Homo sapiens: one gene and its partners. The protein of the gene in region 3 purifies or fractionates together with the protein of the main gene of each other region. This does not show direct contact. Each region holds a gene or a part of one and is shown on either strand. Other genes may lie near its edges.

Region 1 (3,390 bases), on a different chromosome or scaffold from region 3:
CTAGTCATGTAAGTATTATTCCCATTTCCCAGCGGGGACCACTGAGGCCCAGAGAAGTGAATGACTTGACAAGTTCACCTAGCTTCTCATTGAGGAGTCCAGGATTTGGGTCCAGGTCTTCCTGACCTTAAGCCTATACCCTCAACCACTCCCACAGGGCCTTCATTAAGCCTCTACCAGGGCTGTTGCTTGAACAAGAGGCAGCCTCTCTAGGTCCTTCTCAGAGCATCTCCCTCACCTGCGGTTGTGATAGCAGCTCCACAGTTCTCCAGGTGCCCTGGTTGGGCCCTGCCCGTCCTTCTACCCAGGCGGCACTGTGTCAACACCTTCTCCTCTCAGGAGCCAGGTGACCGAGCTCCCGAAGCCACAGATAGGTAGAACAGAGGTGGAGAGAGGAGAGTGGAGGAGGGTGGAGATAAGGTGAAGGGGACTGGTGCCCCGTGTGGGCAGGAACGGGAGGCTGGAACGAGCAGTTAGTTCCTCCAAGGAAGACGCATGAACCTTTTCTACACCTTTATTTATGAAATGCTTATTGAACGGATACAAAGTTAGTGTCTGTCAGCAGGCTGGTGGAGGGAGTTAATGTGCCCTCCTTCCTTCCCCTGGTGGGGGCTGAAGCCAGAAGTGGCTTTATCCTTCCCTCCACCTTGGCAGCAATGGGCTGGGAGGGCCCTGGGACAGGGAGGGGGTTCAAGGGCAGGAAGAGGAAGGGAACAATGGGTAGTAGGGCCTGGGGCAGAGCCCCCTTCTCCTGGAATAAGAGGCTTGACCCTGCTCACCCTGGCAGGAGCTGTGCTTCTCCTTTGCAGCATGGAGAAGTGGTTTGCACTGGGCAGCAGGGGGGATGAGCTCTGGGACTCTCTCCTCCTCCCCAGCCCAGGGTTGGGAGTGCCCTTTTCAGCTATTTCTCACGTAAGGGTCCTCTGTAACACCTCTAGTTCCCTTCAGGAATGCCTGCCTCCCCAGATCTCAAAGGGCACTGCCCTCAGTCCTTGGGGTTAAGGGGCAGGGAGCCAGACGTGGTGGGGCACAGCAGCTGGTGACCTCTCCCTGACGGGGGCCTCAACTATGTCCACACTTCTAGGGGGATCATGCCCTCCTTGCTACCCAGCGGGGGCAGCAAAGACTCATCCTCTAGGAACTTGAGGGGGAAGTGGACCAGGTGGCCCTGGACCTGGGTGAGCTCAGACCGAGCCAAGGGGGGACTGACCGTGGCCAAGGGCTCCACGGCCACGTACTCCCGGAGAGTCCGCAGGGAACGCGTGGCATTGGATGGCAGGCAGCGGAAGATCTGTGGGCGGGGGCATGGACGCCAGTAAGGCTTGGGGAGACTCTCCCAACAATCTAAGTCCAACTAGGCTAGACCCCTTCCCCCATACCATCTCTCCATACCCCCCGTTGACCCTGGGCCACTAACTCTCTCTCTCTTTTTTTTTTTGAGACGGAGTTTCACTCTTTTTGCCCAGGCTGGAGTGCAATGGTGCGATCTCGGCTCACTACAATCTCCACCTCTCGGGTTCAAGTGATTCTCCTGCCTCTGCCTCCTGAGTAGCTGGGATTACAGGTGCCCACCACCATGCCCGGCTAACTTTTGTACTTTTTTTTTTTGAGACAGAGTTTTGCTCTTGTTGCCCAGGTGGCTGGAGTGCAATGGCGTGATCTCGGCTCACTGAAATCTCTGTCTCCTGAGTTCAAGAGATTCTCCTGCCTCAGCCTCCCAGCCACACCTAGCTAATTTTTTTGTATTTTTAGTAGAGATGGGGTTTTGCCATGTTGGGAGGCTGATCTCAAACTCCTGACCTCAGGTGATCCACCGGGCCTTGGCCTCCCAAAGTGCTGGGATTACAGGCATGAGCCACTGCACCCGGCCTGGGCCACTAAATCTCTTGATAGCAAATGTCCCCAGGCCCTCATCCCCCTTCCAATAATGACTGTATGGTGGCGCTTCTCTCCATCCTACCCTGAGCAGGATAATCCACAAATTTCCCCAGGCCACTCTCCCCCACCCCTCCCAAGTTCCCACCTGCTCATAGATATTGGCGTTGCTCTCAGCCATGTCTTGCCACAACTGGAAGAAGTCATCACAGATGGGGTCTCGGAGATCCAAGTCTGGCCGGGTATTTGCTCCAAGAATCACACTATAGGAGAAAGGGGTCCCAGCAGGGCCAGATTAAGATCCTTAGAGAACCTGAGTACCAGAAAAGTTACATTGTCCCTACTCAGGTAATTCAAAATTGGCTGGGTGCGGTGGCTCACGCCTGTATTCCCAGCACTTTGGGAGGATGAGGCAGGTGGATTGCTTGAGCTCAGGAATTCAAGACCAGCCTGGGCAATATGGCAAAACCCCATCTCTACAAAAAAATACAAAAATTAGCCAGGCACGGTGGCATGTGCCTATAGTCCCAGCTACTTGGGAGGCTGAAGTGGGAGGATCACTTCAGCTGGCGAAGTCGAGGTTGCAGTGAGCCGTGGTAACGCCACTGAACTCTAGCTGGGTGACAGAGCAAGACCCTATCTCAAAACAAACAAACAAACAAAAACAAAATAAATGCAATATAAAATAGTAAAATAAGTGTAAAAGAAGCCAACAGAGTTCTGATTTGTCTTGACTTTGATGACTACCTTGATGCTTTAAAAAATTATTTTTATTTTAAATTTTCTTCTTTTTCTGTTCTTTCCCCAATCCTCAGAACCTGTGAAAAAAATTACTTTTAAAAGATTTTTTTTTTGGCCGGGCACGGTGGCTCATGCCTGTAATCCCAGCACTTTGGGAGGCTGAGATGGGCGGATCACGAGGTCAGGAGATCGAGACCATCCTGGCTAACACGGTGAAACCCCATCTATACTAAAAATACAAAAAATTAGCTGGGCATGGTGGCGGGCGCCTGTAATCCCAGCTACTCGGGAGGCTGAGGCAGGAGAATGGTATGAACCCGGGAGGCGGAGCTTGCAGTGAGCCGAGATCGCGCCACTGCACTCCAGCGTGGGTGACAGAGCGACTCCGTCTCAAAAAGAAAACAAACAAACAAACAAAACACAAAAGTTTTTTTTTTTTGGCCGGGCGTGGTGGCTCATGCCTGTAATCCCAGCACTTTGGGAGGCGGAGGCGGGCAGATCACGAGGTCAAGAGATCTAGACCATCCTGGCTAACACGGTGAAACCCCGTCTCTACTAAAAATACAAAAAATTAGCCGGGCGAGGTGGCGGGTGCCTGTAGTCCCAGCTACTCGGGAGGCTGAGGCAGGAGAATGGCATGAACCCTGGGCGGCGGAGCCTGCAGTGAGCCGAGATCGCGCCACTGCACTCCAGCCTGGGCGACAGTGAGACTCCCTCTCAAAAAAAAAGAAAAAAAAAAAAGATTTTTTTTTTTTTTTGGCCAGGGGCGGTGGT
Region 2 (3,500 bases), on a different chromosome or scaffold from region 3:
GCCTTTTGGCTACAATCAAGTATGATATTCGTGCCAGGTACAGTGGCTCATGTCTGTAATCCCAGCACTTTGGGAGGCTGAGGCGGGTGGATCACAAGGTCAGGAGATCGAGACCATCCTGGTTAACACGGTGAAACCCCGTCTCTACTAAAAATAAAAAAAATTATCTGGGCATGGTGGCGGGAGCCTGTAGTCCCAGCTACTCGGGAGGCTGAGGCAGGAGAATGGCATGAACCCGGGAGGCGGAGCTTGCAGTGAGCCGAGATCATGCCACTGCACTCCAGCCTGGGCAACAGAGCAAGACTCTGTCTCAAAAAAAAAAAAGTGTAATATTCGCATACTTGGGAAAGAACTGCACCAAGCTGGCTTTTGGATGGCCTTGCTCTGCTCAAGTTTGCAGTAACCCACATTTCTTTCTTTATAGCTCAAGGACATGGTGCCAAAGGAGACAATGTCTATGAATTTCACCTGGAGTTCTTAGACCTTGTGAAACCAGAGGTATGTTCTTTCCTTTCTCACTTCCCTTCCCATTTTAGGAAATGAATACCAGTAGTTTAGTGAAATGGGGAGCAGGGTTTGTGGAGAGAAGAAGATAAAAACCAAAGGGGAATAATAGAGTTCTTTTATTTGGAACAGAGCCCAGGTTTTAGCTGCAGAGGAATGGGAAAGTCAGAGACCCCAAGTTGAGTCAGGGCCCTGCCATTTATTAGCAGTGTGATCTTGAACAAGTCTCTTAACTTCTTCGAGTTCTGGTGTTCTCATGTGTTAAATGAAGGTCTGGACTAAGTGATCCTTCCAGCTCTGATATTCTCTGGTTTTAGTGATGGCAGAGGAATATGGCACCCATTGAGAACAGAGTTACATAGAGTGGTTGAAGCCCCCACCAGGGGTTACTTTCATGTGACTTTGCCACAGTTGCAGGTGAGAAAAATAGAAATCAGAAAGGGTGAAGGCAGCTGGCCTTCAGAAAGAATGCTGCAGATATCATCAAAACTTCCCTTCCCTTAGAGCCTGAGGAAGCTTCTCTCATAAGCAGGGAGAGAATCCAATAGATGGGGTATTTTGGCTTCTGGAATTACACTTAGCTCTGGTGGCTTGAGCTTCTTGATTTCCGTGCGCAGGTGCTCAGTTGTTTTGAGAAAGCATGAATAATAACCAGTGGTACAGTGGGCAGAGAACCTGTCATGGAGCTTCCTTTGGAGAAAAGGGACAGGACATGTAGACAAACAATGAGCTGGAATGGCCTATAAGAATTTGAGTTTAGTTGGGAAGACTCCCCAAATTGACCCCTGTGAAAAAATCTGTAACTGATCCAATACAGTTCTGATCTTGATGCAGGTGTTTCTAAAACCGGGGTCTGCTGAGCCAGGACAGTCATTTTCATGGGAGGAAAATTTATAAGCTGAGGGTAATTGGATGCAGTACCCTTGAGAGGGTGATTGGACATAGTACCTTGCATGATGTGGCTGTGGCAGGAGGTTCATGCTAGTTCCCTCCAGCCTAACCAGGAACTATTTGCCTTTCTTATCCTGATATCCTCCTGTATCATTCACTGGGGGAATCAGAGAAGGACATTATGTCCTTACCAGTTCTCCATGCCAGCCGTTGGTCTAGATCAACCTTTTTGGCACCAGGGACCAATTTTGTGGAAGGCACTTTTTCCACAGATGGTGGAATGGGGATGGTTTCAGGGTGATTCAAATGCATTACATTTGTTGTGCACTTTATTTCTGTTATTATTACATTGTAATATATAATGAATACAACTCACCATAATGTAGAATCAGTGAGAGCCCTGAGCTTGTTTTCTTGCAACTAGACAGTCCCATCTGGGGGTGATGGGAGACAGTGACAGATCATCAGGCATTATAGTCTCATAAAGAGTGAGCAACCTAGATTCCTTGCATGCACAATTCACAATAGAGTTCACGCTCCTATGTGAATCTTGTGCCAATGCTGATCTGACAGGAGGCAGGGCTTAGGCAGTAATGCAAGTGATGGAGAGCGAGTCTAAATATAGGTGAAGTTTCACTCACTTGCCCACCACTCAGCTCCTCCTGTGTGGCCCGATTCCCAACAGGCCATGGACCAGTATCAGTCCATGGCCCAGGAGTTGGAGACCCCTGGTCTAGATGTTCCCTTTGCATCAGGACTTGCAGGACCAGAGAAAGAAGGAGAATAAATATATCCTGCAGCTTCTATGTACGGCGCCCCTGGCATGGTGCTGCTTCAGGGAACAGAAGAGGGCATTCTCACATTTTCACTTTCTCTCCTAGCCTGTTTACAAACTGACCCAGAGGCAGGTAAACATTACAGTACAGAAGAAAGTGAGTCAGTGGTGGGAGAGACTCACAAAGCAGGAAAAGCGACCACTGTTTTTGGCTCCTGACTTTGATCGTTGGCTGGATGAATCTGATGCGGAAATGGAGCTCAGAGCTAAGGTTAGTAAGGATCCTAGGATCTAGCCATTGAGGACAAATCATGGGGAACCCACGTTATTCAGGCCACTTCAGATACCTCTCGGTCTGAAAGAATAGCTACAAAGTTACAAATTCATTTAAAGACCTGGTGATGTGATTTTCAAGAAGTATTGGCTATGTATTTTATAGACTTTCCTTCGGTTGAAATCTGTCTGATGTTTCTCTTACAACTAGACTAAGGTGATAGATGTTGAGGAGAAGACCACTGAAGTAAAGTGCAATTCTTATCACATCATATCAAGAGTACATACGGCCGGGCACGGTGGCTCACGCCTGTAATCCCAGCACTTTGGGAGGCCAAGGTGCGTGGATCACGAGGTCAGGAGATAGAGACCATCCTGGCTAGCACAGTGAAACCCTGTCTCTACTAAAAATACAAAAAATTAGCCGGGCGTGGTGGTGCATGCCTGTAGTCGGAGCTGCTCAGGAGGCTGAGGCAGGAGAATGGCGTGAACTCGGGAGGCGGGGCTTGCCGTGAGCCGAGATCACGCCACTGCACTCCAGCCTGGGCAACAGAGCGAGAGTCTCAAAAAAAAAAAAAAAAAGTACATACTGTCAACGTGACACATCACTGTTGATATTAACCATGGGTTAGCTGGCTTGAGGTGACGCTTATCAGGTTTCTCTACCATAAGGTTATTTTCCTCTTGGCTCTCCTTGGAAGGAAGTCACTATGTGTAGCCTACATTTAAGGAGCAGGGAGTTATGCTTCCTGTCCTTTAGATGGAGGGAGTATCTACATAATTTATTTGGAATTCTTCTGCATAGGAGAATAATTATGCATGTCTATTGTCTCCCATTTATTTATTCAATCATTTATATCATGTGAGTACATGGGTATTTATTTTATACTTTGAGTTATAATCTAATATTATTTATTTTGTTGCTCAAATTCTTCCAGCTTTGGCACTAACTGGCCTTTGGTTATGTCCTCATCCTGCCCATCTTTCATTTGGCTTTTGTATCTTTTTGAGAAAGCGCCATCATTATGGGACTGTTTTTTTTTTTTTTTTTGAGCAC
Region 3 (3,381 bases):
GATTGAAAGAACAAATCTGGTTATTAGAACATTAGATTCCTAAATAAAATTTTTTTTTTTTTTTTTTTTTTTTAGACAGAGTCTCACTCTGTCAGCAGGCTGCAGTGCAGTGGCGCAATCTCGGCTCACTGTAACCTCCGCCTCCCGGGTTCAAGCAATTCTCCTGCCTCAGCCTCCCGAGTAGCTGGGACTACAGGCACACACCACCACACTCAGCTAATTTTTGTGTGTGTATATATGTATGTGTATATATATATATATATATATATTTTTTTTTTTTTTTTAGTAGAGGTGGGGTTTCATCGTGTTGGCCAGGCTGGTCTTGAACTCCTGAGCTCAAGTGATCTGCCTGCCTCGGCCTCCCAAAGTGTTGGGATTACCGGCATGAGCCACCGCGCCCGGCCAATAAAATTTCTTTATCATGGGGGTGGAACTCAGCTCCTACGCTTATCCCACTTTCAACTGTTCTAAAGAGACCACAATTTAACAACATTTTCTGAAAGTCATGGAGTAAAATTAAGCCTAATTGTGAGAGTCTAGACCCAAAGACTCATTTTAAAATGTTCTAGAGCTCAGAGGTGATAAGGAATAAGAAGAAGACCTGGTTGTGTGGCTGTCCCATAAAAAAATCATTTCTATAAAGAAGGGAGAGGGCCTGGGCTGTGGAGGCTCAGCATTACCGCAGTCTCGGGATGACCGCCAGCCTAAGACAGACTGAATTAAGTGAAGTCCAGACAGCTTCAGAGCAAGACCGTCTGTCTCTCCTTTCCCCAAGATTTTCATTCAAGCCAAGTGATGAAACTGCTCTCTTCTTCCTTTTTCTGCACTAAAGTTGCTGCTTTCAAGGTGTTATGACTTTTGAAAGATGGGCTGAACTGCTAGAGGTGCTCAGAGAGACTAGAATAGAGTTCAAAATAGATGCCATTTAATTTTATATTTTACAAATATTTTATCACTCATAGGACACAGCTTGATAACCATCATAATATGTTTTTATTGATGAGTGAATGGATAGGTGTGTTTTTTTTAATCATCATAAGTTTATGTTTTGCATGGGCTCATTCTGTTCTCCTGGAAATCAGAAGAACAATAGGGTACACAATGATCCCATCTATCCCTGCCAAACCTTGGCCCTGTGATTTATCTACCATACCCCATGCTGAAAAATGTGCTCAGAAAACTCACATATTCTGAGAAATATTCTCAGAAAACTAAAAGTATAAACTTATTCTCAGAGACCAGGTAAGAAATGGGTTGTTTGGGGTCGTTTCATTCTAATCTCTAGTATAATGACTGAGTCTAAATTCTGGTTTTCATAGTTTTTTTTGGTTTGTGCATGTGCAGGTAGTCTGAGACAGACTATATTTGGATTTAAAAAGGATTTCTGTGTATCAAACAAGACAAGTCTGTAACCATAACGATAAGGGATCACCAGTTAATTCTAGACTGGATTCCCCAGAACTGGACTAATTAATGTGAGGACGTAAAATCCCAGTGTCTCGTATGTTTGGATATGTCAGAGACCAAGATGCTTTCTTCCCAATAAACAGTCAACTCATATGTTAGAGGTCTATTTAAATAATCCTTTGCTGGAAAGCCCCACAAACAGGTGTCCATACCACATACACCCCAGCTCTGGGCCCATGCCCCATCACTTCCCCAGGAATGAAAGACTATAAAGAGCAAAGGTTACAAAGCCCAGAACTGGCACTGTTTATACAGAAAGGGAGATCCATCAGTAGCATGACTCTTTAATCATTGTTATTTACAATTTATCATCTGACAGACTTACAGAGAATAAATAAAGAAAAGAAAATATACAATTGGTATCACGTTTCTTTTTCTAATACAGAGAAATTTTACATATTCTATTTGGAACGTCTATGATAGTTTTAAGCAGAAATTAAATCCATTTGCCCTTTACCCCTTGACAAGACACATCATCTTCCAAAGCCTGCAGAAGGGGGCCCAGATGTTTCCTCATCACAGGAAGAGTGCACCACATCGCTGCAGAAACTCAGTCCTCAGAAAAAGTTACCAGGCAACAAGGTAGAAGAATAGGATATCATGAATAATAAAGGACATATAATGGATAGGCTAGATTACAGACTCTTGGTGTGTTTGCAGGAAGCCAGCTTTCAATTGTGTCCAAGCCTGTTTTCAAGAAAACAGTTTTTCACTGAAAGTGATTACCTTATCCCATTGTGCTTCCCTTGAGTCTCTGCAAATTCTTCCTTGACATGTTCATTGTGATTGTGGATGAGCACAGGCTAGCTTGGGACTCAGATTATTTTCCTGCAAGGCACCTGACACTGTTGCATGTTGTTGACAAGGTGTCTGCAGGAGAAACTAGATAGCTTGTTTCAAATAGGCTGGGTATGAGGCCAGAGTCTGGTCTCTCCTTTTGATTCGGTGTCCTGTGGAGAACTACCTTTCATTGCTGTCTAAATGCCTCAAAAAATTAAGCAGTTCTATAGATCAATTTCTCCATCAAAAAGTATACAAACAGAGAATGCACTTCACCAGGAACAAGTCTGAGTAATTTTTTTCTCTTTCCTCACTTGAAAATAAACTCTCCATGTTACAAGCAAAACAATTCTCCCTACATTCACTCTAGTTAACTGGATGAGAAGTTTTTGTTTCTATCTTATGTTCATTCAAAAAAACAACATTCAGCAAATATTTATCAAGTGCTCACAATGACCTAGAAACTTAGTAAGACACACATTGTTATAATCTTGACCCCTTAAATAGGGGACTTAAAAATGTCAATCATAAAACTCAAAACTGTAATCCACAAAACTGGAGTTTCAACTTCTCCCCAGGTTGCCGCTGTGTTTGCAATTAATTTGGTCTAATGTGGTTGTTATTCCATTTAATAACGGCTATTTAGGCAAATAAAACCTCTCTACCACTCTGAAAATAGTATTTTATCAAACATTAGGAGTCTATACCATTGTATTCTATTCTCTCCACAAGCTATTTCCAGTGCCATTAACTAAGTGCCAACTAACTCTTGACTGAAATACTGGTTTACTCTAAACTCCTTATTTTGTCCCCAGTGCTAATCCTACTCACGTAGAAGCAGCAGGAAGCATCTAGAATATCCTGCTACCTGGTTTTCTAGACAACAAGCTATGAACAGGTCTTACTGTGTTTTGTGTTGCCTAATCTTTCTAAGTTTGTCTTGGATTGTTTCAGATGCCAAACAGCCAAACAAATCAGAAAATTTAGAAGCAGTGTAGGCAGGGTATTGCTCATGACAAAGGAACACATTAATGTGTTAATAGTCTCTCTAAAACTGTAGAACTTTATCCAGATAGTATCTTTCCTGTTGTATCCAAGCAAGGCCAGTTTACAAATCAGCAAGAATTAAAAGTA
Region 4 (3,500 bases), on a different chromosome or scaffold from region 3:
CCCAGCACTTCGGGAGGCCAAGGTGGGCGGATCACCTGAGGTCGGGAGTTCAAGACCAGCCTTTGGAGAAACCCCATCTCTACTAAAAATACAAAATTAGCCAGGCGTGGTGGCTCACACCTGTAATCCTAGCACTTTGGGAGGCCGAAGCAGGTGGATCACCTGAGGTCAGGAATTCAAGACCAGCCTGGCCAACATGGTGCAACTCCGTCTCTACTAAAAATACAAAATTAGCCGGGCATGGTGGCGCATGCCTGTAATCCCAGCTACTCAAGAGGCTGAGGCAGGAGAACCACTTGAACCTGTGAGGCAGAGGTTGCAGTGAGCCAAGATTGTGCCATTGCACTGCAGCCTGGGCAACAAGAACAAAACTCCGTCTCAAAAAAAAAAAAAAATCATTAGTAGCGTTCTCTGTCAGTTTATTGTGGAAAGAAATCAAGTAAACAAATTCTCAAAAAGATTTGCTTCAAATAAGAGAACACTGTTTAGGTGGAAGATCTCCTTTTTCAGCACGGTCTTCCCAAGGTAACAAGGGGGTTGGGATTGACTTGGGTGTGTCTGACATAATTGAGAAAGAAATTTAGTCTGCAGGTTAAAAGTGAAGCTGAAATCCAGGAGTTAATGTTTTCCTCAATGGCTTATAAAAAAATTGAAGAGTGACACAGTTTTCTCATTTTAAAAGTGGCTAATTTCTAATGCTAATACTGGTTATGCAGAGTATTAAAATTTCTGATAAATGTTTTAGTAAAAACTAATTCTCTCCATGTCTGTGCATATATTATTTAATAATATGATCCTTAAATGTATGTGATCCAACCAATCTGTGGCAAATCATAACCTCCAAGACTATATACAGATTAGAACTACGTACAGATTATGTAAAATTTACTCTTGTGACACATGAGTTATTTTAATTGAATTTAAGTTGCCACCCCAATTAAAAATTATTTCATATTTTAAAGATAAGATTTTAGAAATATCTTCTACAGAATATTAGTATCTGACTAGGAATGTAAGTCCATTATGTTTCATGTACAGCTTCCTCACTCCTATCTGGACTTTTTAACTTTCAGAAGTTTAAGGAAATAAATAGCACGAATGATAGAATGAACACAAATATTACCACCACCCAGAATTAATATTTCGTTATGTTTACTTAGAATGTTTCTTTTTAATAAGAAATAGATACAAAATTGAAGTATCCTTTAACTACCATGCTTGGTAACATTTCCCTTCCACCTCCTTTCTTCCTAGAGGTAACCACTCCACTTTTGGGAACTGAGTATATACATATCCTTTCAATCCATTCTTTAGTTTTACATAATTTATCCATAACCAATTCTTAGTACTAGGGCTGGTTAGTGTTGATTTTATTCAAATTCACAGAAGCATCATTACAATATGTTCATCATTTTTCTTCACTCTAATTTTTTAAAAATATTTCTGTTAATATATAGACTTAATTTGTCACTTAACTGCTAGAGAGTACTCTACTATGTTACTATCACATTTTATTCATCTATTTCACAAGAGACAGCATTTGTTTCCCAACTTCTGGCTACTATAACTCATGGTGCAATGAACTATACAGCTATAGACCAGTACATGACTCCCTGTGTTCATGTTTCTTGGGTAGATGCATATATATAGTAGTTCCCCCTTATCCACAGCTTTGCTTTCCATGGTTTCAGTTACCTGTAGTCACCACAGTTCATAAATAGTTGAGAACAGTACAATAAGGTATTCTGAGAGAAAGATCATATTCACATAACTTTTATGATTACAGTATATTGTTATAATTGTTCCATATTATGTTTATTATTGTTTTAAATCTCTTGCTGTGTCTAATCTGTAAACTAAATTTTATCATAGGTATGTATATATAAGAAAAAAACATAGACATAGAGTTTGGTCCTATCTGGGTTTTAGGTATCCACTGGGGGTCTTAGAGTCCATCTCTTGCAGAAAATAGGGGACTACCATACTCAAGAGTGGAACTACCGGGTATTCTGGAATGTTTTAGAAGTTCTTTCCTGCCCTAAGGTTTTAAAAACATCTTCTTATAAAACTGTTATATTATTAAGTATTGCTTTTTGCATTTTAGTCTTTAGTACTTTAAGAATTCATAAGAAAAATATTTTATATTATGATGGGAGATATTATTTTTCCATATGAAGAGTCAATTAATTTTTAAGTAATCCATGATTTCCCCACCAATCTGGGATACCGCCTCTATCAATTACCAATTCCCCATATATTCATGCACACATTTCTGAATTCAATATTCTGTCTCAGTCTCAGTTTTATGACTGCTTCAACAACAAATAATTTTGATGATTCTAGTTTTACAATTCATATATGTAGCAAAACATCACAAAAATGATAATTTTGTCTCTTAATTTCAAATCCTCATACATCTCATATCTATTTCTTAATGCATCTGTAGGCCTTCCAGGAACACATTAAGTAGTGTCCATGACTAGATCCTAACTTTAATGAGTATACTCCTAGAAGTACAGCATTGATAATGCTTGTTGTGGGAGTTTTGGGGGTACGGGTTTTCTTTACACTATAATACTTATTAAACATCATAGTATTTAAGTTTTGAATTGCTGCTGAAGGACTTCCCACATTCATGTCACTTTAATGTAAAATGAATTTTCCAATACACTATTAAGTGTAAAATCTGCTGAACGTTTTGCTAAATCCAAGGCATTCATAGAGAACTTTAATGAGTATGAATTCTCTGGTGTCTAATGTGATGTGACTTTTGGCTGAAAGCTTTCCCACATTCACTACACTGATAAGGTTTTTCACCAGTATGGATTCTCATGTGCAGAGCAAGGGTTGAGAACTGAGAAAAGGCTTTCCCACATTCATTACAACCATAGGGTTTCTCACCTGTATGGCTTCTCATATGCACAGTAAGAGATGAGCTTTGACAGAAGGCTTTCCCACAGACCTTACACTCATAAGGCTTATCACCTGTATGAATTCTCACATGTACAATAAGTGATGTGATTCGAGAGAAGGCTTTTCCACATTTATTACATTCATAGGGTTTCTCTCCTGTATGAATATTGTGATGTTTAATGAGGTATTGCTTCTGCCTGAAGATTGTTCCACATTCATTACATTTGTAGGGTTTCTCTCCAATATGAATTTTCTCATGCTCTGTGAGATTTGACTTGCCACTGAAGGCTTTCCCACATTCCTTACACGTATAAGGTTTCTCTCCTGTGTGACTTCTCTGGTGTCTAATGAGGCTTGACTTCTGAATGAAAGCTTTCCCACACCCTTTACATTCATAAGGTTTCTCTCCAGTATGGATTCTCTGATGTATAATGAGGTTTTCCTTCTGGCTAAAAGCTTTTCCACACTCACTACATTTAAAGGGCTTCTTTCCAGTATGGATGTTCTGATGTTTAATGAGGTATTGCTTCTGGCTGAAGGCTCTTCCACACTGATTACATTCAAATGGTTTTTCTCCAGTATGAATT

What was found.
Region 1: the proteins of DDR2 (region 3) and PLD2 purify together in Homo sapiens (affinity purification with mass spectrometry; one large-scale study listed by BioGRID and IntAct). This does not show direct contact.
Region 2: the proteins of DDR2 (region 3) and HACD3 purify together in Homo sapiens (affinity purification with mass spectrometry; one large-scale study listed by BioGRID and IntAct). This does not show direct contact.
Region 4: the proteins of DDR2 (region 3) and ZNF260 purify together in Homo sapiens (affinity purification with mass spectrometry; one large-scale study listed by BioGRID and IntAct). This does not show direct contact.

Annotation. Positions count from the first base shown.
Region 1 is NC_000017.11:4,820,541-4,823,930, reverse strand, and holds the end of PLD2 (phospholipase D2), read right to left. Parts: intron 2,139-3,390; coding exon 2,024-2,138; intron 1,292-2,023; coding exon 1,067-1,291; 3' UTR 501-1,066; downstream 1-500.
Region 2 is NC_000015.10:65,554,463-65,557,962, forward strand, and holds part of HACD3 (very-long-chain (3R)-3-hydroxyacyl-CoA dehydratase 3), read left to right. Parts: intron 1-424; coding exon 425-498; intron 499-2,276; coding exon 2,277-2,441; intron 2,442-3,500. UniProt on the Homo sapiens protein: Catalyzes the third of the four reactions of the long-chain fatty acids elongation cycle. This endoplasmic reticulum-bound enzymatic process, allows the addition of two carbons to the chain of long- and very long-chain fatty acids/VLCFAs per cycle.
Region 3 is NC_000001.11:162,784,928-162,788,308, reverse strand, and holds the end of DDR2 (discoidin domain-containing receptor 2 precursor), read right to left. Parts: 3' UTR 904-3,381; downstream 1-903. UniProt on the Homo sapiens protein: Tyrosine kinase involved in the regulation of tissues remodeling. It functions as a cell surface receptor for fibrillar collagen and regulates cell differentiation, remodeling of the extracellular matrix, cell migration and cell proliferation.
Region 4 is NC_000019.10:36,511,272-36,514,771, forward strand, and holds part of ZNF260 (zinc finger protein 260), read right to left. Parts: coding exon 2,729-3,500; 3' UTR 1-2,728. UniProt on the Homo sapiens protein: Transcription factor that acts as a cardiac regulator and an effector of alpha1-adrenergic signaling. Binds to PE response elements (PERE) present in the promoter of genes such as ANF/NPPA and acts as a direct transcriptional activator of NPPA.